Linked DNA regions of Homo sapiens. The protein of the gene in region 1 interacts with the protein of each later gene in a biochemical or structural test. Each region holds a gene or a part of one and is shown in the gene's direction. Other genes may lie near its edges. The genes, in order: CHAF1A, SUMO3, PABPC1, ASF1A, YWHAB, DDX41 and SUMO1.

What was found.
Region 2: the proteins of CHAF1A (region 1) and SUMO3 form a complex in vitro, tested with the Homo sapiens proteins (one study listed by BioGRID).
Region 3: the proteins of CHAF1A (region 1) and PABPC1 form a complex in vitro, tested with the Homo sapiens proteins (one study listed by BioGRID).
Region 4: the proteins of CHAF1A (region 1) and ASF1A form a complex in vitro, tested with the Homo sapiens proteins (one study listed by BioGRID).
Region 5: the proteins of CHAF1A (region 1) and YWHAB form a complex in vitro, tested with the Homo sapiens proteins (one study listed by BioGRID).
Region 6: the proteins of CHAF1A (region 1) and DDX41 form a complex in vitro, tested with the Homo sapiens proteins (one study listed by BioGRID).
Region 7: the proteins of CHAF1A (region 1) and SUMO1 form a complex in vitro, tested with the Homo sapiens proteins (one study listed by BioGRID).

What each region holds. Positions count from the first base shown.
Region 1 is NC_000019.10:4,426,298-4,430,309, forward strand, and holds part of CHAF1A (chromatin assembly factor 1 subunit A), read left to right. Parts: intron 1-2,366; coding exon 2,367-2,593; intron 2,594-3,140; coding exon 3,141-3,309; intron 3,310-3,410; coding exon 3,411-3,491; intron 3,492-4,012. UniProt on the Homo sapiens protein: Acts as a component of the histone chaperone complex chromatin assembly factor 1 (CAF-1), which assembles histone octamers onto DNA during replication and repair.
Region 2 is NC_000021.9:44,807,724-44,811,735, reverse strand, and holds part of SUMO3 (small ubiquitin-related modifier 3 isoform 1 precursor), read left to right. Parts: intron 1-2,617; coding exon 2,618-2,689; intron 2,690-4,012. UniProt on the Homo sapiens protein: Ubiquitin-like protein which can be covalently attached to target lysines either as a monomer or as a lysine-linked polymer. Does not seem to be involved in protein degradation and may function as an antagonist of ubiquitin in the degradation process.
Region 3 is NC_000008.11:100,708,488-100,712,499, reverse strand, and holds part of PABPC1 (polyadenylate-binding protein 1), read left to right. Parts: intron 1-42; coding exon 43-138; intron 139-2,768; coding exon 2,769-3,041; intron 3,042-3,276; coding exon 3,277-3,367; intron 3,368-4,012. UniProt on the Homo sapiens protein: Binds the poly(A) tail of mRNA, including that of its own transcript, and regulates processes of mRNA metabolism such as pre-mRNA splicing and mRNA stability.
Region 4 is NC_000006.12:118,900,459-118,904,470, forward strand, and holds part of ASF1A (histone chaperone ASF1A), read left to right. Parts: intron 1-307; coding exon 308-423; intron 424-4,012. UniProt on the Homo sapiens protein: Histone chaperone that facilitates histone deposition and histone exchange and removal during nucleosome assembly and disassembly.
Region 5 is NC_000020.11:44,888,624-44,892,635, forward strand, and holds part of YWHAB (14-3-3 protein beta/alpha), read left to right. Parts: intron 1-4,012. UniProt on the Homo sapiens protein: Adapter protein implicated in the regulation of a large spectrum of both general and specialized signaling pathways. Binds to a large number of partners, usually by recognition of a phosphoserine or phosphothreonine motif.
Region 6 is NC_000005.10:177,513,956-177,518,561, reverse strand, and holds the start of DDX41 (probable ATP-dependent RNA helicase DDX41), read left to right. Parts: upstream 1-1,600; 5' UTR 1,601-1,616; coding exon 1,617-1,643; intron 1,644-1,726; coding exon 1,727-1,837; exon of another isoform or gene 1,838-2,114; coding exon 2,115-2,274; intron 2,275-2,368; coding exon 2,369-2,443; intron 2,444-2,572; coding exon 2,573-2,633; intron 2,634-2,740; coding exon 2,741-2,877; intron 2,878-3,303; coding exon 3,304-3,376; intron 3,377-3,492; coding exon 3,493-3,646; intron 3,647-3,724; coding exon 3,725-3,861; intron 3,862-4,606. UniProt on the Homo sapiens protein: Multifunctional protein that participates in many aspects of cellular RNA metabolism. Plays pivotal roles in innate immune sensing and hematopoietic homeostasis.
Region 7 is NC_000002.12:202,217,814-202,221,825, reverse strand, and holds part of SUMO1 (small ubiquitin-related modifier 1 isoform a precursor), read left to right. Parts: intron 1-1,719; coding exon 1,720-1,794; intron 1,795-4,012. UniProt on the Homo sapiens protein: Ubiquitin-like protein that can be covalently attached to proteins as a monomer or a lysine-linked polymer.

The sequences.
Region 1 (4,012 bases):
GCTGGGACTACAAGCGCCCGCCACCATGCCCCGCTAATTTTTTGTATTTTTAGTAGAGACGGGGTTTGCACCGTGTTGGCCAGGATGGTCTCGATCTCCTGACCTTGTGATCCGCCCGCCTCGGCCTCCCAAAGGGCTGGGATTACAGGTGTGAGCCACCGTGCCCGGCCTTTGTTGTTTTTTGTTTGTTTGTTTTGAGACAAAGTTTCGCTCATTGCCCAGGCTGGAGTGCAGTGGCATGATCTCAGCTCACCACAACCTCTGCCTCCTGCGTTCAAATGATTCTCTTGCCTCAGCCTCCCGAGTAGCTGAGATTACAGGCATGTGCTGCCACGCCCAGCTAATTTTGTATTTTTAGTAGAGACGGGGTTTTTCCATGTTGGTCAGGCTTGTCTTGAACTACTGACCTCAGGTGATCCGCCTACCTCGGCCTCCCAAAGTGCTGGGATTACAGGTGTGAGCCACCACGCCCAGCTACAGTGTCTTTCATTATACTGAAATTTCTCCTTTTGGCCAGGTGCGGTGGCTTATGCCTGTAATCTCAGCATTTGGGGAGGCCAAGGCGGGTGAATCATCTGAGGTCAGGAGCTTGAGACCAGCCTGGCCAACAAGGTGTCTCTACTAAAAATACTAAAAATACAAAAATTAGCCGGGCGTGGTGGTAGGCGTCTGTAATCCCAGCTGCTCATGAGGCTGAGGCAGGAGAATCGCCCAACCCAGGAGGCAGAGGTTGCAGTGAGCCGAGATTGCACCACTGTACTCCAGGCTGCGCAATGAAGCGAGACTCCATCTCAGAAAAAAAAAAGAGGAGTTGTGATCTTTCAAAAAAAGACCCTGTCTTTTTTTTTTTTTTTTTTTTTTTTTTTTTTTGAGAAGGAGTCTTGCTCTGTTGCCCAGGCTAGAGTACAGTGGCGTGATCTGGGCTCACTGCAACCTCTGCCTCCCAGATCCAAACGATTCTCCTGCCTCAGCCTCCTGAGTAGCTGGGACTACAGGTGCCCACCACCATGCCAAGCTAATTTTTGTTTTGTTTTGTTTTGTTTTGTTTTTGAGATGGAGTCTTGCTCTATCCCCCAGGTTGGAGTGGTGCAGTGGCACGATCTCGGCTCACTGCAACCTCTGCCTCCCAGGTTCAAGCAATTCTCCTGCCTCAGGCCCAGGCTAGAGTACAGTGGCGTGATCTGGGCTCACTGCAACCTCTGCCTCCCAGATCCAAACGATTCTCCCGCCTCAGCCTCCTGAGTAGCTGGGACTACAGGTGCCCACCACCATGCCAAGCTAATTTTTGTTTTGTTTTGTTTTGTTTTTGAGATGGAGTCTTGCTCTATCCCCCAGGCTGGAGTGCAGTGGCACGATCTCAGCTCACTGCAACCTCTGCCTCCCAGGTTCAAGCAATTCTCCTGCCTCAGGCTCCCAAGTAGCTGGGACTACAGGTGCATGCCACCGTGCCCGGCTAATTTTTTGTATTTTAGTAGAGACCGGGTTTCACTGTGTTGCCCAGGCTGGTCTCGAACTCCTGAGCTCAGACAATCCACCCGCCTCGGCCTCCCAAAGCGCTACAATTACAGGCGTGAGCCACCGCGCCTGGCCTAATTTTTGTATTTTTAGTAGAGACGGGGTTTCACCATCTTGGCCAGGCTGGTCTCGAACTCCTGACCTCAGGTGATCCGCCCTCCTCAGCCTCCCAAAGTGGTGGGATTACAGGCATGAGCCACTGCCCCTGGCCTAATTTTTGTTTTTAGTAGAGATGGGGTTTCACCATGTTGGGCAGGCTGGTCTCGAACTCCTGACCTCAGGTGATCCGCCTTCCTCCGCCTCCCAAAATGGTGGGATTACAGGCATGAGCCACTGCCCCTGGCCTAATTTTTGTTTTTAGTAGAGATGGGGTTTCACCATGTTGGGCAGGCTGGTCTCGAACTCCTGACCTCAGGTGATCCGCCCTCCTCAGCCTCCCAAAGTGGTGGGATTACAGGCATGAGCCACTGCCCCCGGCCTTTTTTTTTTTTTTTTTTAAGTGAGGTTTGTTGAGATATAATTTACATCCAATAAAATAAACTCTTTTCAGGACATTTGTGTTGACAAATGACAGGGCCAGCTAACCATAATGAAGATAAACCCTATTTCCATCACTCAAAACAGCTCCCTTGTAGTCTGTCCCCCCACCGCCGGCCCTTGAGACTGCCAATCTGCCCTCTGCCCTGTAGCTCTGGAAACTCGGCTCTGTGGACCCACACAGTGCCTGGGCTTTTGAGTCTGTGCCTTGGCCTTAGCCTGGATGAATCCCACCAGCACCCTGCTGTGTGCGTCCATGGTGCCTCCTTTCTCCCATTGCTCGAAGACCCCATCGGGTCTCTTCTTGATTTCAGACCCTGGCCGGCTCCTGTGGGAAGTTTGCCCCCTTTGAAATTAAAGAGCACATGGTCCTGGCCCCTCGGCGTCGGACCGCTTTCCATCCAGACCTCTGCAGTCAGCTGGACCAGCTCCTCCAGCAGCAGAGCGGCGAGTTCTCCTTCTTGAAAGACCTCAAAGGCCGGCAGCCCCTGAGGTCCGGACCCACGCACGTTTCCACCCGGAATGCAGATATTTTTAACAGGTCAGAGCCTGAGGAGGTCGGCCTTCACCCACTAGTGATGCTGGAGGCCAGCATCCTGAACCCTGGGGTCCCCGGGGTGGGAGCTCTGGGTCCTTCTGTTGCTTGCTTCCTAGTGCCCTCGGGCCCTGGGCTTCGGTGCTGGCTCAGGCCTCTCTCCACCTGGCCTTCCTGTAAGCTCCTGAAGTCTTCCTCTCCCTGTCTTCCCAGCTCCTCGTGGAGGAATCTTATTTCCCTGCTGGTCTCCAGTGAAGGATACCCCCCAACACCTCGCTCTTGCAAATCTCATTCCACAGAACCTCCCTTGCTAAAAATGCTCTGGGGCTGCACCTGGGCAGCTGTCCTCCCTCTCACCCTGCAGGCTGCACCCTCCTCCATCTGTCCCTTCAGTCCATGTTCCTGACCTTTCTTTGGGGACAGGCAGTGCTGCTTTTTAACAAATGCCCATCTTTCTAGAATTGTTAGGCCAGCTTCACAGGGAGGTTCCTGGGAGGTTTGTGAGCAGGTCTGTAAGGCAGCGTGATCCTGAGCCTGGGGTTTTCCTTCTCAGTGATGTCGTCATCGTGGAGCGTGGGAAGGGCGACGGTGTTCCCGAGAGGAGGAAGTTTGGCAGGATGAAGCTCCTGCAGTTCTGTGAGAACCACCGGCCTGCCTACTGGGGTACCTGGAATAAGAAGACGGCACTCATCCGCGCGCGAGACCCCTGGGCCCAGGACACGGTGAGCTAGCCCCAGAGTGCCTCCGTCCCCGTACCTCCTCACTGTGCCCCTTTCCTCCAGCCCCAAAGACAGTTGTGAGTCCCATGTGTTTCTTTTCTCAGAAGCTCCTGGACTATGAGGTGGACAGTGATGAGGAGTGGGAAGAAGAGGAGCCTGGGGAGTCCCTGTCCCACAGTGAGGGGGTAAGGATGTGCCCCAGCTGTCTTCACTCACAGACGGCTTGTGTTTGAGTCTCTGTCCCACAGTGAGGGGCTAAGGATGCAGCCCAGCTGTGTTCACTCACTGACAGCTGGTGTTTGACCTGCTGTGTGGTCTGAAACCTGAACGCACCTCAACATCCAGACTTCCAGCTTCTCTCGAAAAATCTCATCTGGTGACACTCGCCCACGTGGCTGCTGGGGATGGGATCCCGTCCGCATCTGCACCGTGGCCCCACAGCCCCCTCTTGCCTCCTGCGGGCCTGCTGCACACCATTTCCTCCTGACTGCCCAGCTGCTGTGACCTAGTGGGCTTTCTGCCGATGCTCACCGTGTCTGTCGGGAGGCCATGCAAAGCAGATGTTCACAGCTTTACATTTTTTTGTTTCTTTAAGATGGAGTCTCACTCTATCACTCAGGCTGGAGTGCAGTGGCGCGATTTCGGCTCACTGCAACCTCTGCCTCCCAGGCTCAAGTGATAGTCCTGCCCCAGCCTCCCTAGTAGC
Region 2 (4,012 bases), on another chromosome or scaffold:
CTTTATTGTTGCATTTGGGCTTCTTTCCGGGAGGTCATTTCAACTTTATCTTTCCACTTCCTGTGGACATTCTCATCTCTGTCATGATTTTTAATTTCCAAAAGTTCTTTTTTCTTTCTGTTCTTTGAGTGTTCTTTTTTTCTCAGTAGCAACTTATTTTTTTTGAGACAGGGTCTCACTCTGTCCCCCAAGCTGGAGCGCAGTGGTGTGATCATGGTTCACTGCAGCCTTGAGCCCTGGGGCTCAAGTGATCCTCCCACCTCAGCCTCCCGAGTAGGTGGGACTCCAGGTACACGCCACCACGCCTGGCTCATTTTTTTATTTTGTGGAGATGGGGTCTCCTTATGTGGTCCAGGCTGGTCTGGAATTCCTGGGCTTAAGTGATCCTTCTGCCTCGGTCTCCCAAAGTGCTGGGATTACAGGTGTGAGCCACCGCACCCATCCTCAGTAGCAATTGATTGTTTTCTGAAGGTAGTAGTATTTTTTACTTCCCATAGAATTTGAATCGTGAGTGTAGGTGTGTGTGGTGTGTATGTCCGTGTCTTTGTGCATGTGTGTGTATGTGTGGGTGTGTGCCTGTGTGTGTATGTGTGGGTGTGTGCCTGTGTGTATATGTGGGTGTGTGCATGTGTGTGTATGTGGGTGTGTGCATGTGTGCATTCGTGTGTGTGTATGTGTGGGTGTGTGCGTGTGTGTATGTGGGTGTGTGCGTGTGTGCATATGTGGGTGTGTGCATGTGTGGGTGTGTGCATGGGTGTGTGCATGGGTGTGCATGTGTGGGTGTGTGCATGTGTGTGGGTGTGGGCATGTGTGGGTGTGGGCATGTGTGTGCCTGTGTTGGGAGTGTTCTCCTGCCTCCTTCCTGTCCGTTCTCCTCTGCGCTCCTCCCCTCCTCTCTAGGCTGCTGCACAGTGAGCCTTTCCCTGACTGCTCTCACGCAGGCTGACTTCTGTGCAAGCATGGAGCACCGAGAAGCTGCTGAAAAGCTGTGTACATGGATGGCTGTGCTGCCAGGGCTGTGCATCCACATGGGGTGATCTGTCTGGATTGCAGGTTCTGGAGGCGCCCAGATGCTACAGTTTGAGAGTTGAGTCCTCCAGGCTCCGGCCAGCCTCCTGGAGGCGCATCTGGAGGGGAGAGGGGACTTGGCGCACAGTGTTGAGGGCACGCGCTTTCGTGGGCCTGTTTCCGCCCTGCGCCTGGAGCTCCGCACCCACCTTCTCAGAAAGCACATCTCATGTGTGCTGCCGTGGGAGGCACAGGGTTGTGGGGGTCCTGCCTGAGGGGTCTGCATGTGAACTTCCAGGCAGCTGTTCAGAATCAGCTGCCTGCCACAGCTCTGCCTCACAGGTTGGGGCGTGCCCAGTCCCTCCGCCCTAGGATCCTGGTCCAGTGTCCATCAGACCACCAGTGTCCACGCCTCAGTAGCCTCTGGCTCAGCCCAGCATTGACATATCTGCCCATCCCCACTCCCGTTTTCTTTGTCCTTCCTGTTTGTGCCTTTTTCATTTACTTCATTTCAGTGGGGTTTCAGGAGGGAGCAGAGATGCACGTTTTAACCCCGTCTGTCCTGTTTCAGTTAAATCAAAACTGCTCGTTGAGGAAATGTTTCTGCCCCTGACCACATTTCTCCATTCCCTCAGGACGCAGAAAGGCTGCGTGCTCTCCTTCCTGCTGCCCTCCTCAAGGCCAAAGTCATGGTGGTAACTGCTCCCCGGCCTCATGCAGCCTTCTTATCTGTCCCTCATTGGCACACAACCTGTTCCTTGCTGAGAACTTTGTAAAGGGGGGAAGTAGTGGTGCCAGCATTGTAGAAGTTCTACTCGGCTTCTGGAAAGATGGGAGGGATGACCCAGGACAGGTCAGGGCACCAGGACAGAGAAGATTCAGTGTTTGAATTGACCATTCCACACGGCCACTGCACTGAGAAACTTTGATTGAAAAGCTAGCCACTGGAAGGTTAGTATTCACCTGGCGGCTCATTTCCCCTCCCCTGGCACATCACCAATGCTAGTCCAGCTTTTCTCCTGCTCCTCAGAGACCTCCTGGCTGACAGCTGTCTGAGCTAGCGTCACTGTGACGTGTTACGCTTCCTCACCTGGGTTTCGTATGTAAAGAAAGGGTGGATTTTAGAGGTACATGAGTTTGGATGTTAGTCTAGGACGTCTCTTGTGTTCTGGTGTTTGAATGTAAGTCGGCTTTCCTTCTGCCATGGACCACTTACCTATCTGCTTTGAAACTGAACTGCCACTGGTTTGGCTTTAAGAAGTTCCCAGTATGCAATGGTGTAACAAAACCTGGGTTGAAAATGAGCCGTTTTAGCTCATCAGAGAGAAGATGGTAGAAGAGTGGGTTCTGAAAGCAGTGGTGTCAGGCACCGCGTGAAAGAGATTGTAGGCCCACTGGTGAGTTTTTAATACTGAGCTGGATCATAAATCTGCATATCAGAATGCTGATACTTGGATTAAAATATTTGGTTTTTGAATTAAGCCGTATCTGGAAATGTTTAATGGCCACTGCTTTTCCTCTCCAGGGCTTGTCAGTGAGACTAATGGCCACTGCTTTTCCTTTCCAGGGCTTGCCAGTGAGACTAATGGCCACTGCTTTTCCTTTCCAGGGCTTGTCAATGAGGCAGATCAGATTCAGGTTCGACGGGCAGCCAATCAATGAAACTGACACTCCAGCACAGGTACGGAGCTGGCTTCGCGTGGTTCCAGGGCGACTTCCGATTTGTGCGGGGTAACTGCCATTTGGGATACGCTTATTTGAGAATTGTAGGTGGGAGCTCATACAGAATGCCTTAATGATATTGATTATTAGATTATTTATTTTTCACATTTTAAATTTAAATTTTCAAATGAGAAAACTGCTTTGCAGACATCATTCTTGCTGTTTGGAGATGGAGCCAAGTGCTGGGCCCGTCCTCACTGTAAGGGAAGCGGGGGTGCAAGGACCACTCAGCGGCCCCTTCCCACTCATTGTCTGGACGCTTGCTGTTGTAGCCCGTGTGCAGCTTAGGGGCCAGCTGGATTCTTGTGCCCTTTAAGCATCTTGCACAAGTGACGTGGGTGGGCAGAATGTGCCATAACCCCTGATTATCAGTCTGCACAGCTCGTTTCTCTCAGGCACATGCAGACATGAATGAGATTTCATCTATCACGTTGCAGGGCATCATACTGTCATGGAAAGAGCTTTGGACCTGGAAACAGACTTTTTTTTTTGAGACGGAGTCTCGCTTTGTTGCCCAGGCTAGAATGCAGTGGCGCAGTCTCAGCTCACTGTGCAAGCTCTGCCTCCTGAGTTCACGCCATTCTCCTGCCTCAGCCTCCCAAGTAGCTGGGACTATAGGTGCCCACCACCACTCCCGGCTAATTTTTTTGTATTTTTAGTAGAGACGGGGTTTCACCATGTTAGCCAGGATGGTCTCGATCTCCTGACCTTGTGATCTGCCCACCTCAGCCCCCCAAAGTGCTGGGATTAAAGGCATGAGCCAACGCGCCCGGCCGAAACAGAGTTTTTTTTTAAACTTGGTTCAAGTTGCAGCTCTTGTCATTTGTCAGCTGATGGCCCCGTGACCAAGCATCACTTCATCTTGTGGAGTCTCAGTTTTGTCTGTCCATAAATGGAACCAATACCTGCTTTTTCTCCCTTTCAATGTTGTGAGAATCCACTGGAATGTTTTATGTGGAAATATTTTTGCAAAACATTTAAGATTTTAAATATTTACTATTCAGTATTTAATAAATATTGAAAACATCTTTGCAACAAGTATCCATTTGTACCTACTTGAGGAAACCTACACACCGCTGAGGCAGTGGCAGCTCTGGGAGTGTTCACCAGGGAGAAGCTGCTGAGAGCAGCTGAGCAGGGAGGGCCTCGTGGAGTCTCTGGGGCTTGACTGGGGGTCAGGGGGCTGGCTGTGGACAGGTGGACCGAGAGGCAGAGGGAGCCCTGCCTGGGGGCTCTCCCTCCAGCCCATAGTGTCGGTGGCAGGGTGAGGGTGGCCGACAGC
Region 3 (4,012 bases), on another chromosome or scaffold:
CCATGGTTTTCTTTTTCTATAGTTTTCTTTTCTTCTTTTTAGGGTGTTAATCTTTATGTGAAAAATCTTGATGATGGTATTGATGATGAACGTCTCCGGAAAGAGTTTTCTCCATTTGGTACAATCACTAGTGCAAAGGTAAGAAAACATATGGTTCATTTATTTGAGGTCTAGTAAAAATTCATACATGTAGATATATGTATATAAATTTTGTATTATTATAGCCACTAGAGAGGTGTTTGCTTCGTTACTTCTAAAACTTAAATTCACATTTGAACTGGTTGTCATAGCCTAATGGTTAACTTAAAAATGGCAAGCACTGAACTCTTTGCTAAGGAAGGCTGATATCCTCACATGATATGCACTATTCCAACAACTAGTCATTTTGCTAAAGCAAGCAATTTATTAGGGACTTATAATTGTTACTATAGTTCTGATCTGTTTATTCATTTCTACAATTCATTCTGGGTAGTCAAGCCCCAGTTCCCTCCCCTGCCCCCTAGCAGTAAGAATAGAGATCATATTTTCTTTTATTTGAAATCAGAGATTAAGAAACAAAGCAGTAGTATTCTAGTACAAATTCTGAAATCTTGATTTAAGAAGTTCTCTTCTAGATGTTTTTGTCTAGCATCCGTGGGCCAAGAGTCCCCCTATATGCAAGGTTTTGTGCATACATAATTTTGCTGGGGTTGGGGAAGAGTGCATAGAAAAAAATTACAACTCAACTGAACTGGAATGACGCTGTGGCTGATCTTTCTAGTCAGCTTTTCCTGGCAAGTCCGAGGAAGCTTCTGTGAGAGTGAGGAAATGTTAGGGGAAAGGTGGTTGAATACAAGTAAGATGGAAGTGCCATGGTTGTCTTGTGTTTCAGATTATGCTTTTTATGTAAGAGTATTGGAGTACGATAGAATTTATTCCTGAATGTTTTTGTCTTCAGTGTGTTCCCTGGATATTGTTTAAATTGAGTGTTGTGCATCAGCATATTTTGAATGTATGAAGCATGCATGTTTTTCTGTTTCTTGAGACAGGATCTCATTATGTTGCCCAGGTTGGAGTGCAGGGGCATGCCACAATCACAGCTCACTGCAGCCTCAGCCTTTCCTGGGCTTAAGCCAAGCTTGTCCAACCCGCTGCTTGCAGGCCACATGCGGCCCAAGAATGCTTTTAATGCAGTGCAACACAAATTCTTAAACTTATGAGGTGTTTTTTTTTTGTCTTTTTTAAAGACGAGTCTCACTCTCGCCTGGGCTGGAGTGCGGTGGTGCAATCTCAGCTCACTGCAGCCTCCGCCTCCCGGGTTCAAGCGATTCTCCTGCCTCAGCCTCCTGGGTAGCTGGGATTACAGGCATGTGCCACTACGCCCAGCTAATTTTTGGTATTTTTAGTAGAGATGGGGTTTCACCATGTTGGCCAAGCTGGTCTTCCAACTCCTGACCTCAGGTGACCTCCTAAAGTGTTGGGATTACAGGCGTGAGCCACCGTGCCTGGCTGGTTGTCTGTCTTTTTATTGATTAAGGGAACATTTGTTTTATTTTTTTGAGATGGAGTGAAGTGGTGTGATCTCAGTTCACTGCAACTTCCACCCCCTGGGTTCAAGCAGTTTTCCTGTCTCAGCTTCCCGAGTAGCTGGGATTATATGCACCTGCCACCATGCCCGGCTAATTTTTGTATTTTTAGTAAAGACGGGGTTTCGCCACGTTGGCCAGGCTGGTCTCGAACTCCTGACTTCAGGTGATCCACCCGCCTTGGCCTCCCAAAGTGCTAGGATTACAGGCGTGAGCCACCGCGCCCGGCCAAACATTTGTTTTATATTGGAAATATTTTCTTCGAATTTTCCACTTTATAGACCTCACTTTGTGTGTGTGTCATCTTAGAAAGGTTTTCTCTCTATTTCTACATTCTATGTTCAGATTCAGAATCTACCTGGCATTTAAGATTTTTCAATGTAATGTGAATTAAGAGTTCTACATTTTTTCATTTGTCCCAGTGTGTCATGTATTGAGTAGCCCAAAGTCCTTTTTCCCCAGTACTTTAAAATGTTAACTTTAGCACAGTGAATTCCCATAATTGCTTGGGTATATTTCTGGCCTCTGTTTTATTACCGTTTGTTCCTATGCCACTCGCATACTGTTAATGTAGTTTTATAGCATGCTTATATATATTGCTGGCCTAGCGAGTGGTTCTTTGCAAGTCTTCATTGCTCATTTAAAAGGTCTTTGCAATCAATTTTAGAAGAACCTTCCTCTTGAGTGTTCTTTATACCGTAATATTTATGGATCCTCTGCTCTTGAATGTAAAAACTTTTATTTTAAGATGTGGGTATTGTAAGATTCAACTACTTTTTTCTCAAAGGCATAGTGAAGCATCTTGTCAGCTTGAATTGTTAGAATAGTCAAAATTTAATTGGGAAATGCTTCCAGTGGTGCCCAAAAGTCAATTTAGTAGGCCTGGGATGTATTTATTTAGATAATTAAATTTCAATATTGAAAATCCAATCAAATTCAGTATCTAAAATCTTTAAAAGTTTCTGTGCAGCCTTCACTTCTGTCAGTTCTCTGACCTGGCTAGGGTAATGCATATGTGTAGTTTGCCCTTAATAATTGGGTATTAAGGAAAAATTGTGAACTCAATGGGTAAATACAAGATGATTAAGCATTAACAGGGTTTAGTTATTTGATTCAGTGATTTATAATTGTCTAAATTGTAACGCTCTTTTTTTGCTCCTCATTCTACCATTACGTTAACTTTTTTTTTCTTTTTTTTAATAGGTTATGATGGAGGGTGGTCGCAGCAAAGGGTTTGGTTTTGTATGTTTCTCCTCCCCAGAAGAAGCCACTAAAGCAGTTACAGAAATGAACGGTAGAATTGTGGCCACAAAGCCATTGTATGTAGCTTTAGCTCAGCGCAAAGAAGAGCGCCAGGCTCACCTCACTAACCAGTATATGCAGAGAATGGCAAGTGTACGAGCTGTTCCCAACCCTGTAATCAACCCCTACCAGCCAGCACCTCCTTCAGGTTACTTCATGGCAGCTATCCCACAGGTAGGTTTTAGAAGGCAACCAGAACCATGAAGGTTTTCGTATTTGGTCATTTCTAGTGTTTTTTGTGCCCCTCGCCCCGCAAATGTGAAACATTAAGAAAGGGGAATTATGATTGAGTAGGAAAAAATGCTTGAGTGTGAAGTCCTGGTAAATGTTTTGAAAAAGTACATATAATTTATTGCATTATTTGCTTTTTTCTTCAACTGATAAACTCATGTGCTTTTTTTCCCTGCAGACTCAGAACCGTGCTGCATACTATCCTCCTAGCCAAATTGCTCAACTAAGACCAAGTCCTCGCTGGACTGCTCAGGGTGCCAGACCTCATCGTAAGTCTTTTTTCTTTTAATTAAGGTTGGGGATTGAGTTAAAAATAACACATTGGGTAAATCAGCTCTTCTATGTCAATGTTAGGTTAACTATTGCATTTCACATAATTTGTGGTTATGGATGTTCATTTTTATAGCATTTAAAAGCAGTGCTAAGATAGTAATGTCTACAGTGGTTTGATTTCCCTTTATAAAAGTTTTGGGAATAGGTACAGCTCTTCATTTTTTATTTATTTATTTATTTATTTATTTTCGAGACAGAGTCTCGCTCTGTTGCCCCAGGCTCGAGTGCAGTGGCTCAGTTTCGGCTCACTGCAACCTCCACCTCCCAGGTTCAAGCGATTTCTCCCTGCCTCAGCCTCTGGAGTAGCTGGGATTACAGGTGCCCGCCACCACGCCCAGCTAACTTACGCATTATTAGTAGAGATGGGGTTTGACCACGTTGGCCAGGGTTGTCTTGAGCTCCTGATCTCAGGTCATCTGCCCACCTCAGCCTCCTAAAGTGTTGAGAGTACAGGCGTGAGCCATGGCACCCAGCCAATTTCATATTTTGTCAGGCCACAGTTTTAAAGGTCTCGTTCCATTTAATCATGTATGAGAATCAGAGTCGTGGTATTTTATGTCTTGTCCTGTGGAACAGTATGT
Region 4 (4,012 bases), on another chromosome or scaffold:
TGCCAGCATGCTTTATGAATCCTCAAGACAAGGTTTACAGCATTTCCCAAGTGTTTGGCTATGTTATCTTGTTTGTGAGGCACTGTCCAGGAACTAGTGTTTCACAAAAGAGTATTTTGAGAAACTCTGATCAAAGTGTGAACTCTGGTAGGAACTTTATAAGGAGCATTTCACTGCCTTTCTGGATTGCTATGAGAAGCCAATTTTAAAGCCAGTAAGTGGCTAAGTGGACATTAAAAGGGTCTTTGATGTCATCTGGTAATGTAATTACTGAATATGAAATAATGCTTTGGTTTTTTAACCCTAGACTTGGAATGGAAAATTATCTATGTGGGCTCTGCAGAAAGTGAAGAATACGATCAAGTTTTAGACTCTGTTTTAGTGGGTCCTGTTCCCGCAGGAAGGCATATGTTTGTATTTCAGGTAAGATTAATCTTGGTAAATGTGTATGCCAAATATGTTTCGAAGTAGACTATATTATCTATTATCTTATAACCCTTATCCCTTTCCTTTTGGGTTAAAGAACTGCTTCTGCTGCATTCACTTTAAATCTGTTTCCATCATGTTTTAGGCAGTCTCTGTGTCACAGAGGAACTCTTACTTCCTGGTTTTATATGCTGAGAGATGTTAATGTGACGTTTACTTTAGAGAGATGAACAACCTACAGTAAATTTTATACTGTATCATGGCACACAGGGTGGTGAATTTGGGGCTCTTCCTGTGAATAGCACCTCAGTATCAGACTTCCAAGGTGGCTGTCTAGCAACCCAAAACATGGATTCAAAATATCTAAAACTAACTGGCATTGTTAGTAATATGCATCTTCAGTTTATGGTTTCAGCCACTGGAACTGATGGTGATGTAACAAAAACAACTTTATTTCAGCATAATCAGTAGTTGAGCTAGGTTAACAGATACGTTTAGTGGATAGAGATGTGTGGTCTTGGGTCATTGGAATGACATTCCAGAGTTTACTAAAGCATCTTATAATCTACATTATCTTATAAGAGGACTACTTTTGCAAATTTACTACCCCACTAGGTATTTGTGAAGAGAATTTCTAGTAATAAAAATTTTGTTCTTAGATACCACTGAGAGTATTTGGATCTATACCAAGGCTTCAGACATTGTCTTCTATATTCAAAAGTGTTATTTCTTTTAATCCATGTTAAATTGCTATATGGAACCATTCAGTTATTCCTCAATTATGCATGCTTATTTATAAGGGAGATGTTTGTAATAGACCAAAGAGTAACTAGCCATAGGTTTTTTAAAACTACTATTAATTTCTGTTACAAGTATTTCAACCCAGCAATGTCCCATCAGTTAAGTGGAACTCACTGAAAAGACTTAATCCAGAAAGAAAATCTAACTCTTCCTATGCCTGACCTCTGTTTTCTCACTTCACAGATGGGACCAATTTAAATGAATACCATTGGTCAAATAATCCCATCAGAAACTGGCAAAGAATCACTTAGACACATGCCATCTCTAGAGCTGCTACCTTTCCCTCCCCTGTCCTAAATACAGAATTTAGAATCTTGGTTTCCTAGCCTTAGTACTTTTGATTAAAAAGCAACAAATAATTTACTGTATCTAAAGAAATAGCTAAGAAAAGCTCAAATATACTAATCAAATATATGAATTAAAAGTGCTGTTAATCAAAGTTGTGTGAGTGCATAACCATGTAAAAGACATGGGTAACAGAATGCCCTGTTCTGTAGAAGGAAGCACTGCAGTTATAGATATAGGTCAAATCCCGACACCTCTGTATTAGCCATGTGTGGCTTTACCTCTCTAACCTCCTCCCTTAGTCATTCCAGTCTTCTATAAAATGTGGATAATATTCTATCTCATTAAAATGTTATGGGGAATAAAACAGTATAATCAGTCACTCATAAAGAGTGCCCTATTCCTAAAATTAGAACTACATTTTTATTCTCTTAACTTCTTGAAATTGTTATATAAAAAAGCAGGACTTGCTCTGACCCACAGGCCTAAGGAACCCATACTTTACTGATAATTCATGATACAGTAAAAGAAACCTGGGTTGACAGGTACTGATAATACTTTTTTTTTTTTTTTTTTGGCTACTATAAGAACTTACAAATAAATGCCTTGTTATTGAAACAAACCCTTGAAAATCTTTTGTGTTTGTTATTAAGCATACTCCTAAGCTTTTGGCTGAAAGTGCTGTAGCAAAAAAAATGTATTCAAAAGTATTTCCTGCTGGTGATCTTCACGTAGTTTTACCTTGGTGTCAGTGTACATGTTGCCAAAAAGAACAGAGGAGGTACAATGTATATTCAGCCTAAAGGTTTTACAGAATTCACCATTATCAACAGAAAGAGACTAAATTACAGCTTTTGTTTTGTATTTTAAAACTACTATAGTAATCTCTTGGTCTGCCATGATTTTGCCTCTCTAAATAGTTAAACATGTCTTTCTTCTGAGTGAGTCAAAGGCTAGCAGGAAGATGTCCAGACATCTGCCTAGTATTGCCAGCTAGAGTCAAAACAAAGATCTCTGCTCATTACTTCTGCATCCTAAATTATTTGAAAGGCCTGTAAGCTTCTCTACTTAAATTTGCTCAAACTGAATCTTTTTCAAATTGTAAAATGCTTTTTAAAAGATGTTTTATATTTACAACAGATTTTAAAACAGAAACATGCCTAGAACCAATTTACTGAAGGGAACCAATTTACTGAAGGGAAGGGGAAGAGTTCTCATAGCAGTACTGAACTATTATATATTTCCCATCTCCACCCACTTCAGGTATATTAGAATCCGTTTGGGTACACTGAAAGTAATCTAACCCCTCTGTGCAGGGGTGTGTAGAATCTCTAAGACAAACAGCATATTCTCCAGGACAAGGCTGGCTGTCCCCTATCCTGGTGTCTTGCCAAGAGATCATAAACCCCTTCAGGGCAGGAACTGATTTACAAATGAATTCCAAAATACTAAGTGCTCAGAGCTGAGCCACACGAGATTATAAAGATGAACTGGATGGGACTCCTGCCCTGGATAAAGCATAGCATCTAGAAGAGAAGACTGAAAAATAAACATGTTTAGATCACAGGGCATACGTTCTTAGATAATTTGTGACAAGAAATATCAGCACATAAAAAAGGAATCTATTGATTCTACCTTCTGAGTTAGAAAGGGCGTCACTGAGAATACACTCGATGTAAGCTCCAAAAAAGATTAAAAGATGAATTTTTCAGGATGTGAGCGAAGGACCTTTCAGGCCAAGGGAACAGTATGTTAGAAGCACAGGGGGTGAAGTATTTCTTTTTTAAATTTGTTTTTGTAGAGATGGGGTTTCGCCATGTGGCCCAGGATAATCTCAAATTCCTGGGCTCAAGTGATCCACCCACCTTAGCCTCCCAAAGTGCTAGGATTACAGGCGTGAGCCACCGTGCTCAGAGCGTGAAAAGATTATCACCACGTTTTAAAGAACCTGTGTGATTCATATCTCTAGAACAATGGTGGAGTTAAAGGAGGTATGAATGGAGATATTGGCTGGAGACAAACTGAGAAGGGCCTTGTCAATGAAGTTAAAGAACTGAGATTTTATCCCTTAGAAAAGGGAATACTCTTCTGAGGGTTTTAATAATCTGAGGTTTTAAAACCAAAGAGAAAGAACATATCTGTGTTAATGCTGGTAGCAGTGCAAATGATAGGCTAGAGCTGGGGAGATCAGTTAGAAAATTCTAAGCAATATTCCAGATAGGAGATGACATGAATTCAGCCTCCAGAAATGAAAAAAATGTTGAGACTGACTAGATGTAGGAGATAAGGGAGTGAAGCTGACTGAGGTTTTTAGCCTAGGACACTAGGTAGCGATTTTATGCCTTTTTGTATCATCTACCTGTGTTAGGCATACAGTAAACAACAGTCTTCAATTTTCACAAGCTAAGGCATTGGCTAAAGTGCTCATCTAGGCCCAGGAATATTCCTTGGTGCCCTGGCAACAGGTAAGCTAATTTGCTGGGACTTGATCCATTTACCA
Region 5 (4,012 bases), on another chromosome or scaffold:
CGTTTGAATGGGAATATTAGCTATTTTTGAAGATAGATACAGGACAATTTATTGTGGAGCATATACCCATTCTGGCCTGTAGGGATGATAATTGCTAGCATGCATCAGGAAGCAAGCTTGTGAACAATCCAGTTTTTCTAGTACTTGCTTCATACTAGGGAGAAAGTCATCAGTTACTTTGGCATAGAATTTTAGGTTCTTCATCTAATAGAATTTGATTGTGACCATTAATTTTTGTTTATCTTACGACTTCATCAGTAGATGTTCAGATTTTTCTCATTTTGTTGGCAGGGAGGAAATGAGGAAATATATCTACGTAAATAGAGAGAAACTTCTAAATTAAAACATCCTGTTGTGCTACCTGCTCTTTCGGTGTCAACAAACTGAGTTTTCCTTTAAATGCTGGTACCTTAGAGAATGAACTAAAATTTCCTTGTAGAGATACTTTTAAGTTCCTTGTTTCTACATTTTTCTAGGGAAAGATGACAATTCACTAGTTAAGGGGCAAGAAATTATGGTTACATAATAGCAACCTTTAAGCTTTAGAATCCTTTTGATCTCTATGTGAATATGATCTTAGCAGTCATCTGTATTGCATGATGGAGAAACTAACGGTTGGAGCTGGATTCTGAGGGAATTTTTCTAAGGGGAATACTTGAGGAAACAGACTAAAAGTGCTTTCTGTCTCATGATATGTGTGCTGAAGGCCAATCATCTTACTGCTTTCTCAACTAAAAGATTTTCTAATAGAGGTGTGGTTATATGTATCTGATACTTGTAATGAGATGTAAATGATCAGTGGCCTCAAGTCATTCCTAGCAGATTGTAGGTTAGTTAACTTTTTTTTTTTTTTTAAATTCTGGCCAGTTCTTTATTATGTAAGTTTTTCCCGTACTGGTTAGTTTATTTTATTGTTTTCCCTAAAAGAACCAACAGGAGGTTATTTCTGAATGGCCTTGACCAGGACAAGAAGATTGAAGGCTACAATAAAGTAGATATGAGTCCTGTCTATTATTATTATTTGCCCTCAGCTAAGAGCTTTCCTTTAAAATTTGTTTGACATTTTGGTAAGTCTTTGGCATGTTTTTATGCTGTTTTTAACTCCTTGATTTTGTTTTTATTTTTAAAGCTAGATAACATTAGCTTAATAGGCCAGTTTTAAAATTTCACTGTAACAACCTTGTATAGTTCTTTTAAAAGTTGACAATTCTCTCTTTTCCTTAAGTGAGCATTGGAGTTCATAATTGATCTTTAGGAGATAGGGTTACATAAAGGAAAGAGCATTAATTTTAAAATTAATGTTGGTTTAGATCCCAGATCTGCCATATATAGCTGTGTGACCCTGAATGAGTTAACTCTTTGCATTTATAAAACGGGACAATGTCACCTGCCTCATAGGATACTTAGGATCAAATGCGTTTCTAGGAATCCCTGAGTGCTTTGCAGGCCATAAATGATGGATGGATATTTTTGTTATTTACTAAACGAGTTAGCTGGTTTGGGTTTCTGTATAGTGAACTTTTTGTATAGCGAACTGATTGGACTTCTGAATGGAGGAGATGGACAGAAAGTAATCCAAAGGCTTGTTGAAAGTCAGTTTGAATCTATAAATACAATGATTGGTAGCTGAAAAATATTAGTCAAAATGTATAGTGTTGCTCCTGATGAGAGCTGGCTGGCTTTTTTCAAAAAGTAGTCTAAGACAATAAAAACAGTCTGTATTTTATAGGTCAGATGTGTGCTACCTTCCTCTGTCCACGTAGGAAATAATTGCTTTTTCACTTTTTAAGAATGCATCAGTTGATCAAGCAGTCACTCAGTGTGCTAGGCCTTGTACTCCACATTGGGTGTCCAAAGATACAAGTCTGGATTCCTACTTTTTTTTTTTTTTTTTTTTTTTTTTGTGAGATGGAGTCTCACTCTGTCACCCAGGCTGGAGTGCAGTGGCACGATCTTGGCTCACTGCAACCTCTGAAGCCCGGGTTCAAGCAATTCTCCTGCCTCAGCCTCCTGAGTAGCTGGGATTACAGGCGCCTGCCACTGCGCCCAGCTAATTTTTGTATTTTTAGTAGAGACAGGGTTTCGCCATCTTGGCCAGGCTGGTCTTGAACTCCTGACCTTGCGATCCACCTGCCTCGGCCTCCCAAAGTGCTGGGATTACAGGCGTGAGCCACCACGCCTGGCTGGATTCCTACTTTAAGCTCACAATCCGGTGTGGGAGCCAGCAGAGACACTTGCATTGCAGTAAACTGTGATAAGGGCCATTTTAGAAATAAGCATAGGGAAATTGTTATGTGCCTTTCTTTTAAAAGTCTTTAAAGAAAGCAGAGTACGTGTAAAATAAATGAGGTACATAGTAAGTTTCCCTTCACTGGCTGACCATTGGTTTTTTAAGTTTTGTGTGGAATGTACTGTGGTTGCCATTTATTTGAGTGCTTACTGTTTTATATCATAAACAGGTTTACTCCTTACAGGAACCCTAGTAAGTAGATTTGCCTATGTTTTTTTTTTTCTTCACAGAGTCTTGCTCTGTCGCCTAGGCTGGAGTGCAGTGGCGTGATCTCAGCTCACTGCAGCCTCTGCCTTCAGGCTGCCTCAGCCTCCCAATTAGCTGGGATTACAGGCGCCTGCCACTATACCCGGCTAATTTTTTTATATATTTAGTAGAGACGGGGTTTCACCATGTTGGCCAGGCTGGTCTTGAACTCCTGACCTCAAGTGATCACCCTCCTCGGCCTCCCAGAGTGCTGGGATTACAGGCGTGAGCCACCACGCCCAGCCCAGATTTGCCTGTATTATGGATGAGAAAACAAATTCACAGAGGTCACATAGCCTGTGGACTTGGTGTGCGGTACTGGTAAATCAGACTGATAGGCTTCATTATGTCAGTGGGCCCCAAACTGTAGAAATTATTCATAAGGTCAACCAATTGGGCTGTCTTTATGGATCAGAATTAACATAGTGTCTTTTGGATTGATTACTTAAGCCAAGAAGTCAATTTATTGTCATATCTACCATTAAGTCACATGTGTAACCTTGCGCCTGTCACTTAACACCCTCAGTAAGTTTAATCATGGCTAATTGGACATAATTAGCAATGATATGCAACAGCTGATGTGAAAGAGGGAAGGGATTTTGAAATAATAGAAATGCAGTTTCTCTCCAAATTCAGTGTTCACTGGACTTAGTGCTAATGACTTTGTATTACAGATATGCTGTGTTTTGTTTCCTAACAAAGAACCTGCAAATGTTTGAATGGAATTAAATTTATTACAGGACTCTAAATTTTATATGTAGAATGGCACACAGACAGTTTTATAGTGGGTGTTTTTTAGTGAGTAGTTTTCTCTGAGAGCCAGGAGTGTTTAACTTTTTCTGGGTAACACCCACTAACCACCTGGTCCCACTGACTTTCTCAGTCCCTTCTGCAGTAGCTTGGCATCTGATTTTTCTTCAGCAGAGAGACTCCAGAACTAAAACTTCTGCTGTACAGTGCTGTGGATGCTCTATCTGGAATGGTACATCTGTGAATGCTGTTCAGAATATGTGATCAGTTCCTTACCCCATTGAAACATTCGAGCCTAGATTTTTCAGATTTTCTTGTCAGTTTTCTTCCTTATTCTCATTTCTTTATCTGCTTTGGCCTTTGATTTTTATCTCATCTAGAAAAACATACATGCACTTTATTAATAACATCTCTTTTTAAGTCACGACCTAGCTACCTTTAAACCTATTTCCTCTAGTTCTGTCTGGTTGGCTTTCTAAGGAGAGGCATTGTAACCCTTAAACGTGTGCTGTTTTTTTTTTTAATTGATGTGTAATAGATATACATGTGCTCTTTTCTTGTGTTTCTACCACTAGAGTTTAAGCTCTCTGAGGGGAGGACTACACTGCTTTCTTTTAAATTCCTCTCAATGAATAATCCAAAGAGTTCTTAGAAATTTGGTAGTTTTTCATTTTGTTAGTTATTTCAACACACATTGGATTATATGTGTTACATTTTTGTGAGGTA
Region 6 (4,606 bases), on another chromosome or scaffold:
ACCAAGTCATTCCTTAGAAGTCTCTAATAAAGTTGAAACCACTTACTCTGACAGTCACAGCAGGCATGCTCTGGTCGCAATCTCCTTTTCTGGCCTTAGGTCTGGCTTCCCCATCCCACCCTTGCCGCAATGCTGTTGCCTAGTGAATCTGTGTACTTGCACATCGCCAGACCTGTATTCCTGCAGCGCCCTGGCCCAGGACGCCTCTCCTCTCCCGGCCTGAGATTGCCATGTATTTGGGTGTTGTGAGCAGGACCAGAAACCATGTCCTCCTCCATCCCTCCCAGGTTGAGACCCACCATGGGACTGGCAGTAAGCACCAGCTTATTTTTTTTATAGAGATGGGGTCTTGCTATGTTGTCCAAGCTGGTCTTGAACTCCTGGCTTCAAGCGATCCTCCTGCCTTGGCCTCCCAGAGAGCTGGGATTACAGGAATGAGCCACTGTGCCCAGCCTAAGCTTTCTTTACTAAAGAAGACTTCATGAATTCCTGTGTATCCTTCACATCCCAGCTAAGAGGCCATTGTACTGTGAAAACTATGACACTTCGAAAAGCGGTACCTTGTCTTAGGATCTTTCTCTTTAAGACCAGTTATCTGTCTATATTTCTAGTCTCAATCTACATAAGCTCCTCGCACACCAGGTATGTGTCTTGATTATCATCTGCTTGAGCGCAGTGCCAGCGCCCAGCACACACTCTTGAAGGCAAGAAAGCACAGAGCTGACCAAGTCATTCCTTAGAAGTCTCTAATAAAGTTGAAACCACTTACTCTGACAGTCACAGCAGGCATGCTCTGGTCGCAATCTCCTTTTCTGGCCTTAGGTCTGGCTTCCCCATCCCACCCTTGCCGCAATGCTGTTGCCTGGTGAATCTGTGTACTTGCACATCGCCAGACCTGTATTCCTGCAGCGCCCTGGCCCAGGACGCCTCTCCTCTCCCGGCCTGAGATTGCCACGCTTCCCTGGAAGCGCCCCCCAGGCAGCTCTGTTAGAGCATTTACAGTAATAACCGTTTACATTTATACAGGGCCTCCCACTTCAAAACCACTGCCATCCGTATCTGATGCGTGCCCCACCAGTGAACGTATGTGTCACACAGGCGCAGTCAGGGAGGCAGGGTGTGTCGAGCGGTTTATCCCGCAACCCCGGCGTCCCCGGCAGGGATGAAAGCGCAGGGCCCACGCGAACTCGGCCCGCAGCTCCCGGCCCTAGAGGACGCACTGTCCGCCGGCAGGGGCGTGCCCAAGACGCCATGCTCTGGGAGAGGTTGGGCACCTGGCAGGCCGCCCCGACTCCGGATCAGCTGTCTCCGCTGCGTACGTCTTCCTCTTCCAATGGGCTTGGATTGAGCCTTCTAGCGCATATTCCAAGTCCTCCAATGTCCCACAATGCCTTGCAGCCGGTTTCGCCCTCGGTCCTGGCAACTGTCGCGTAACCACCCATGAAAGCGTCCATGCCTCGCCGTGCGATAGTATCTCCGGAACAAATTTGTCCCTCTGCGCGATCCGGAACTCCGAGGTCGTTCCTACGCGCCGTCGTTCGCCTCTTCACATCGGATTGGGTCTCACGCAAGGATGAGGCGGGGTTTCGCCGTGGCGCGCATGCGTGCAGCAAAGAATGGAGGAGTCGGAACCCGAACGGAAGGTAGGAGAGAGGCGAGACCCCGCGCGTGTGGGAGCGGGCGTGAAGAGGGGAGCAGGCCGTGCCTGACTGGCGTGTGCTTGCAGCGGGCTCGCACCGACGAGGTGCCTGCCGGAGGAAGCCGCTCCGAGGCGGAAGATGAGGACGACGAGGACTACGTGCCCTATGTGCCGTTACGGCAGCGCCGGCAGCTACTGGTGAGGGGCACGCGTCCGGGGAGGGATGGGGCCGTGACCGCGGGGTCGCAGGGGGCGGGCGTGGCCTCGGCCTCCGTGGGGAGGAGGGCAGTCTGAGGAGTGAGCTTCAGTACACCAGGGCGCGGCCCCCAGACAAACGAGGGACCGACGGCTTGATCTGAGGGGTAGGGCAGCTTTGCGCCTCGGGCACAGGATCCTCGCCCCAAAGCCAGGATCCTGACGCTGACCTTGTGGACTCCATGCCCATCCTATCTGTGGATCCCGGGTGGAACCTCAGCTCCAGAAGCTGCTGCAGCGAAGACGCAAGGGAGCTGCGGAGGAAGAGCAGCAGGACAGCGGTAGTGAACCCCGGGGAGATGAGGACGACATCCCGCTAGGCCCTCAGTCCAACGTCAGCCTCCTGGATCAGCACCAGCACCTTAAAGAGAAGGCTGAAGGTGGGCTGGGCAGCACTGCCTGGGCGAGAAAGAAGAAGCTGAGCCTGGTACACCGTTTTGGTATCTGTCTGACATCTTCCACTTCTTTTCTCAGCGCGCAAAGAGTCTGCCAAGGAGAAGCAGCTGAAGGAAGAAGAGAAGATCCTGGAGAGTGTTGCCGAGGGCCGAGGTATGGTTGTAGCCAGGATAGTGAGAAGGTGGACTGAGTCTTCTCCTCCCAGCCCCAGGCATGTTATATCTCAAGGGATCTGGCTTCTCAGAAGCAGGAGCCAGCCCTGAGCCATGTCTCTCTCTTCAGCATTGATGTCAGTGAAGGAGATGGCTAAGGGCATTACGTATGATGACCCCATCAAAACCAGGTATGTCTGTACAGTCTGCAGTTGCCCTTGCTTAGGATGGTACATGCAGGGATGCTCCCAGGCCAGCTATTCCCAGGGCTCTCTTGATCCCTGTTACCCATCCACAGCTGGACTCCACCCCGTTATGTTCTGAGCATGTCTGAAGAGCGACATGAGCGCGTGCGGAAGAAATACCACATCCTGGTGGAGGGAGACGGTATCCCACCACCCATCAAGAGCTTCAAGGAAATGAAGTTTCCTGCAGGTAGTCAGGGGCTGGAGAGAGATACCACACTTTTATAATCAAATGCCTGTGAGGTTATGTCCTGGCTCCCACTGAGCTCAGCCACATCTGCATTGGATCCAGTCACTGGGGCTGGAGGGATTTGAGGAGGAGTTTCTTTAGGTTCCTTGTTGCCTCAGCTGTACGTGTTCATTGTTCTCTGCTGTTACAAAGCTTCAGGAGGAAAGTGCCATTGGGCATAGACACTGGGTACAAATCCTGGCTGCACCTAGCCTGTGGGCCTTGGACAAGTCTCTTTTTTTCTTTTTTTTTTTCCACTCTCTCTCTCTCTCTCTGAGCCTCAGTTTCATCATCTGCAACTTGTAGGGGTAGTGCCAGTTTTACAGGCTTTGGGGCTCTGAGAAAGTACCTGTGAGTCATGAAGACGATGTCGGTTGGTTTTCATAGCCATCCTGAGAGGCCTGAAGAAGAAAGGCATTCACCACCCAACACCCATTCAGATCCAGGGCATCCCCACCATGTGAGTGTGGACTGTGGACCTGGGGTCCTTGAGGAGGGCTGGAACAGGGAGGAGCAATGGCTAGGTGTCCTTCATCTTCTGTTGAAATTGGCCCTCGGGTCATCCTCTCCCAACAGTCTATCTGGCCGTGACATGATAGGCATCGCTTTCACGGGTTCAGGCAAGACACTGGTGTTCACGTTGCCCGTCATCATGTTCTGCCTGGAACAAGAGAAGAGGTTACCCTTCTCAAAGCGCGAGGGGCCCTATGGACTCATCATCTGCCCCTCGGTAAGATAGGCTGGCCTGGAGGGCAGGCCAGAGATTGGGGCTGCCATCTGGTGCCAGCCTTTGTCCCTCTGCCTGCAGCGGGAGCTGGCCCGGCAGACCCATGGCATCCTGGAGTACTACTGCCGCCTGCTGCAGGAGGACAGCTCACCACTCCTGCGCTGCGCCCTCTGCATTGGGGGCATGTCCGTGAAAGAGCAGATGGAGACCATCCGACAGTGAGTGCTGGCGCTCCCTGCCCCCCACCTCTGCCACCTGCGAGTCTGTGGAAAAGCTAAAGGACCCTTTACCTTAGCCACTCCACAGATCTTCACAGAGGGCTGCTGTGAGTGCGACCCTCAAGGAGCTCCCAGTCTAATGGGGAGGTTAGTTGGGGGAGGACAGAGGGATGTGGCCAGGTACTGTGGGAGCACGGCAGATGGAATGGCCCACCTTGCTGGGGACATCTGGGAGGTGGGAGCTCAGAGAAGGCTTTTCCGGGAAGGTGACATTTGAATTGGGAAGAGGGGCAGTCCAGGCTGAAAGCACAGAGGCGGACGGCCCAGGAAGGTCAGGGTCATTCAGTGGTCAGTCAAGGAGGTTGAGGCACTGGGGTAGGGCTGGATCCCAGCGGCACCTGTGTCCTTTCAGTGCTGTGCAGTCCTCTGCAGACCACCAGAGGCCCTGGACCAGGCCCTCTGTTCACAGATGGGCCAGACCCCATCCCGGAGGCCTTCCTCCACGGACTTCTGAGTATTAGGGAGATGGTGAGCACAGAAAAGGTGAAGCCAGTGGGCCAGGAAAGCGAGCCCAGAGTAAAGCCTCTGGAGCTTGATGACAGCGCTTCTGGGTGAGAGGCTGACCCAGGAGAAGGGGGAAGGCGCGCCAGGCCGAGCGGTGGTGAAGATGGCTGCAGTGCCTTGGGAAAGAGCTGTGTGCTATACATAGGGCAGGTGGTGGGAATGATGAGAAGGGGACAGACAA
Region 7 (4,012 bases), on another chromosome or scaffold:
ATATTTGAAGACAGTCTTCTAGTTTTCAGGTGAAATACTGTCTCACTAAAGAAGGTTAATTTTGCCTGCTGCTGTAATAGTCAGTAGTCAGCAAATGTTAAAAGCACTGCAGAATGAAAAACAGGCAAGGATTCATACTAATGAAATCAGTTCTGTTATCTAAGCATTTCCCTAGACTCTAGCCTGTATTTTAAAGTTAAAAGCTGCTTCTAGTTTAATATGTTCTTTTAATTGTTGAATGTTAAAGAATTTTGTATTTTAAGTTACTGGCATGAGATACACAGGTAATGGTTATGGTTATTCTTATCAAATACGGATTAACTGCTTGAAATTATTACGGATAATAAGGTATATATCTAAATAAGTGGGTAATTTGGTGGCCAAACTAAGGTGTAGCACATAGAGAAAAAAAGCTACTTTTTTACCACATTATTCATGAAATTTTCCAAGGTACCCCCTTTACTAAAAATGATTTGCTTATTCTTGAGATACTTCATGGTGAAGTTGTTTTAACTAATTTATTCTGTTAACCTCATTTTCATTTCAGTATCTCTTTATTGGAAATTGTTTTGTAACTGTTTTTGTGATCTTTTTTTTTTTTTTTTTGAAGAGATGAGGTCTTGCTATGTTGTCCAGGCTGGCCTCCAACTCCTGGGCTCTCAAGCAGTCCTAGTGCCACAGCCTCTCAAGTATCTTGTCCTCCTATTTTTGTCTCCTCTTTTAAACTTAAGCATTATGCTTCGGATAGTCTAAAATAATTGATTATATAAAACTGATTCGTTTTGACTCCAGAGTACATTAGGCTAATACTTTCTTATTTGATTTTCCTTTCTAAATAGCCTTGCTTGGCTGGGCACTGTGGCTCACGCCTGTAATCCCAGCACTTTGGGAGGCCGAGGTGGGCAGATCACCTGAGGTCGGGAGTTTGAGACCAGCCTGACCAACATGGAGAAACCCTGTCTCTACTAAAAATACAAAATTAGCCGGGTATGGTGGTGCATGCCTGTAGTCCCAGCTACTCGGGAGTCTGAGGCAGGAGAATTGCTTGAACCTGGGAGGCAGAGGTTGCGGTGAGCTGAGATCGAGCCATTGCACTCCAGCCTGGGCAACAAGAGCGAAACTGTCTCAAAAAAATAATAAATAATAGCCTTGCTTATGCTAATATGATTAATTTACATTTCTTAGTACAGTTTTGTAGTTAAAGTAAACTCCTCATGATAGGCTGTGAGAAGATAATCTTGGATTCAGAAGTTTGTCTAAAAATTCATGGAGGATGAACTTCCTTTGTGCTGGTAAGAGCTGGCTGTAGGGCAGTTGTTTCCAAGTTGTTCCTCTGGCCAGTAGTATCGGTACCACCTGGTAATTTGTTAGAAAGAGATTCTTATCCCTACTACAAATGTGCTGAATAAGAAACTGGGTCTTGGGCCCAGCAGTTTGTTTAACACGTCCTTCAGCTGATTTTGATGCGTGGTAAAGTTTTAGACCATTACTATGGGGTATTATAATAAAAGAGACCCCTTTCTTGATTTCTAGTGAATGGCGTTTGGGACAGTAATTGACTTAGGATTTTTTTTTCTTAATTGACTGGCATGGAAAAGAAATGCTGTTTGTATTCTCAGGTGCAGATTTTGCATCCTGAATGAAAGTAATGGATACTCATAAGTGAGTAATTAAAATAGCATGTAGGAACTTTTATCTTGAAATTTAATTTTCTTTCAGGAGGCAAAACCTTCAACTGAGGACTTGGGGGATAAGAAGGAAGGTGAATATATTAAACTCAAAGTCATTGGACAGGTGAGTTTCATTGTTTTTCTCTTTTGAGTCCCCTTCAATGTGAATACTTTTTCACAGGAAAAAAAATTATTTAAGGCAAATTATTTTAAAATGACTATGTATGCATTTTAATTTACTGTGTATGCATCTGTTAGAGGTAGAAGAGGCCGATACTGTTTTTTAAATTACTCTGCCAGGCAGTTTTAGATCATCTTAATTTTTCCAAATAGGAATGTTTTCTTGGTTAGTGTGCTTCAGGGGCAAATACAGTGAATACTATTAAGTGTTAAGGCTAGGGCCAACCTTAAGTAAAAGGTTTATCAGCCCTTTTCCTGACCCTTTTCTGGCCCCCTATTTCCCTAGACTCTAGTCTGTATCTTTTTTTTTTTTGAGATGGAGTCTTGTTCTGTCACCCAGGCTGGAGTGCAGTGGTGCGATCTCGGCTCACTGCAAGCTCCGCCTGCCGGGTTCACGCCATTCTCCTGCCTCAGCCTCCCAAGTAGCTGGGACTACAGGCGCCCGCCACCATGCCCGGCTAATTTTTTTTGTATTTTTAGTAGAGACGGGGTTTCACTGTGTTAGCCAGGGTGGTCTTGATCTCCTGGCCTCGTGATCCGCCAGCCTCGGCCTCCCAAAGTGCTGGGATTACAGGCGTGAGCCACCGCGCCTGGCTCTAGTCTGTATCTTATTGATTCTGAAATGTTAATTAAGGTTAGCTAACAACCGTTGGAGGAATGAATCTACATAGTTACGTGGGTTTTCTAAAGGACAAAAGACAGAGAATTGGTGGAAGGGTGGACTCGCCCAGGATGGAGTGCAGTGGTATTTCTATTGAAGTGTGACAGTACCATTTCCCTATATTCTCCCAAACATGGGATATTAACAGTCTTTAAATTTTGTTCAAATATGCTAGGTAAAACATTTTTGTTTATTTTTCATTTACCTGATTATTAATAAGGTATAATTTTTTTGGTCTGTTACATTTATATTCTTCTGTTAATTGTGTTCATACCCTTTTCCCATTTTTCTGTGATTATCTTATTTTGAAGACTTTTATTTTTTATTTTCAAAATTTTTTAAATTTAAATTTTATTTTGAAATGGAGTTGTGCTCTTGTTGGCAGGCTGGAGTGCAATGGCGTGATCTTGGCTCACTGCACCCTTCACTCCTGGGTTCAGGTGATTCTCCTGCCTCAGCCTCCCGAGTAGCTGGGACTACAGGTGCCTGCCACGAAGCCTGACTAATTTTTTTAAAAAATATTTTTAGTAGAGACGGGGTTTCCCCATGTTGGCCAGGCTGGTCTCGAACTCCTGACCTCAGGTGATCCCCACCCGTCTCGGCCTCCCAGAGTTCTGGGATTACAGGTGTGAGCCACCATGCCGGCTTTATTTTGAAAACTTTTAAAAGATAAAATTCACATACTATAAAATTCACTATTTTAAAGTATATAATTCAGGGGCTTTAGTATTATTCACAAGTGTGTGCAGCCATCACCACTACTAATTCCAGAACATTTGCATTACCCCAAAAAGACACCCTGTACCCATTAGCAGTCATTCCCCATCCTATTTCCTCCAGCCAGTGACAACCATGATTCTACTTTCTGTCTCTATAGGTTTGCCTTTTGTGGACATTACATATAAATGGAATCATAAGATATATGGCTTTTTTTTTTTTTTTTTTTTTTTGAGGCAAGGGTCTCGCTGTGTCACCCAGGCTGGAGTGCAGTGGCCTGATCTCAACTCACTGCGACCTCAACCTCCTGGGTTCAAGCGACCCTCCTGCCATAGCCTCCTGAGTAGCTGGGATTTCAGGTGTGCACCACCATGCCCAGCTAATTTTTGTATTTTTAGTAGAGATGGGGTTTCGCCATGTTGGCCAGGCTGGTCTCAAACTCCTGACCTCAGATGATCCGCCTACCTCGGCCTCCCACAGTGTTGGGATTACAGGCATGAGCCACCATGCCTAGCTTTGATATGTGACTTTTTATTCTGGTTTGTTTCTTCTTTTCTGCCTTGCTTCCCTGTTCCTCTTCCCCTCCCTCCCCTCCCCCCCTCCCCATCCCCGTCTCCCTCTCCAGGGTTCTCGCTATGTTGCTCAGGCTGGTCTTGAACTCTTGGGCTTAAGTGATTCTCCCTCTTTGGCCTAAAGTTCTGGGATTATAGGTGTGAGCCACTATGCCTGGCCTGGCTTCTTTGTTTTAGCATGTTTTCAAGGTTCATTCATGCTGTAGCATGTA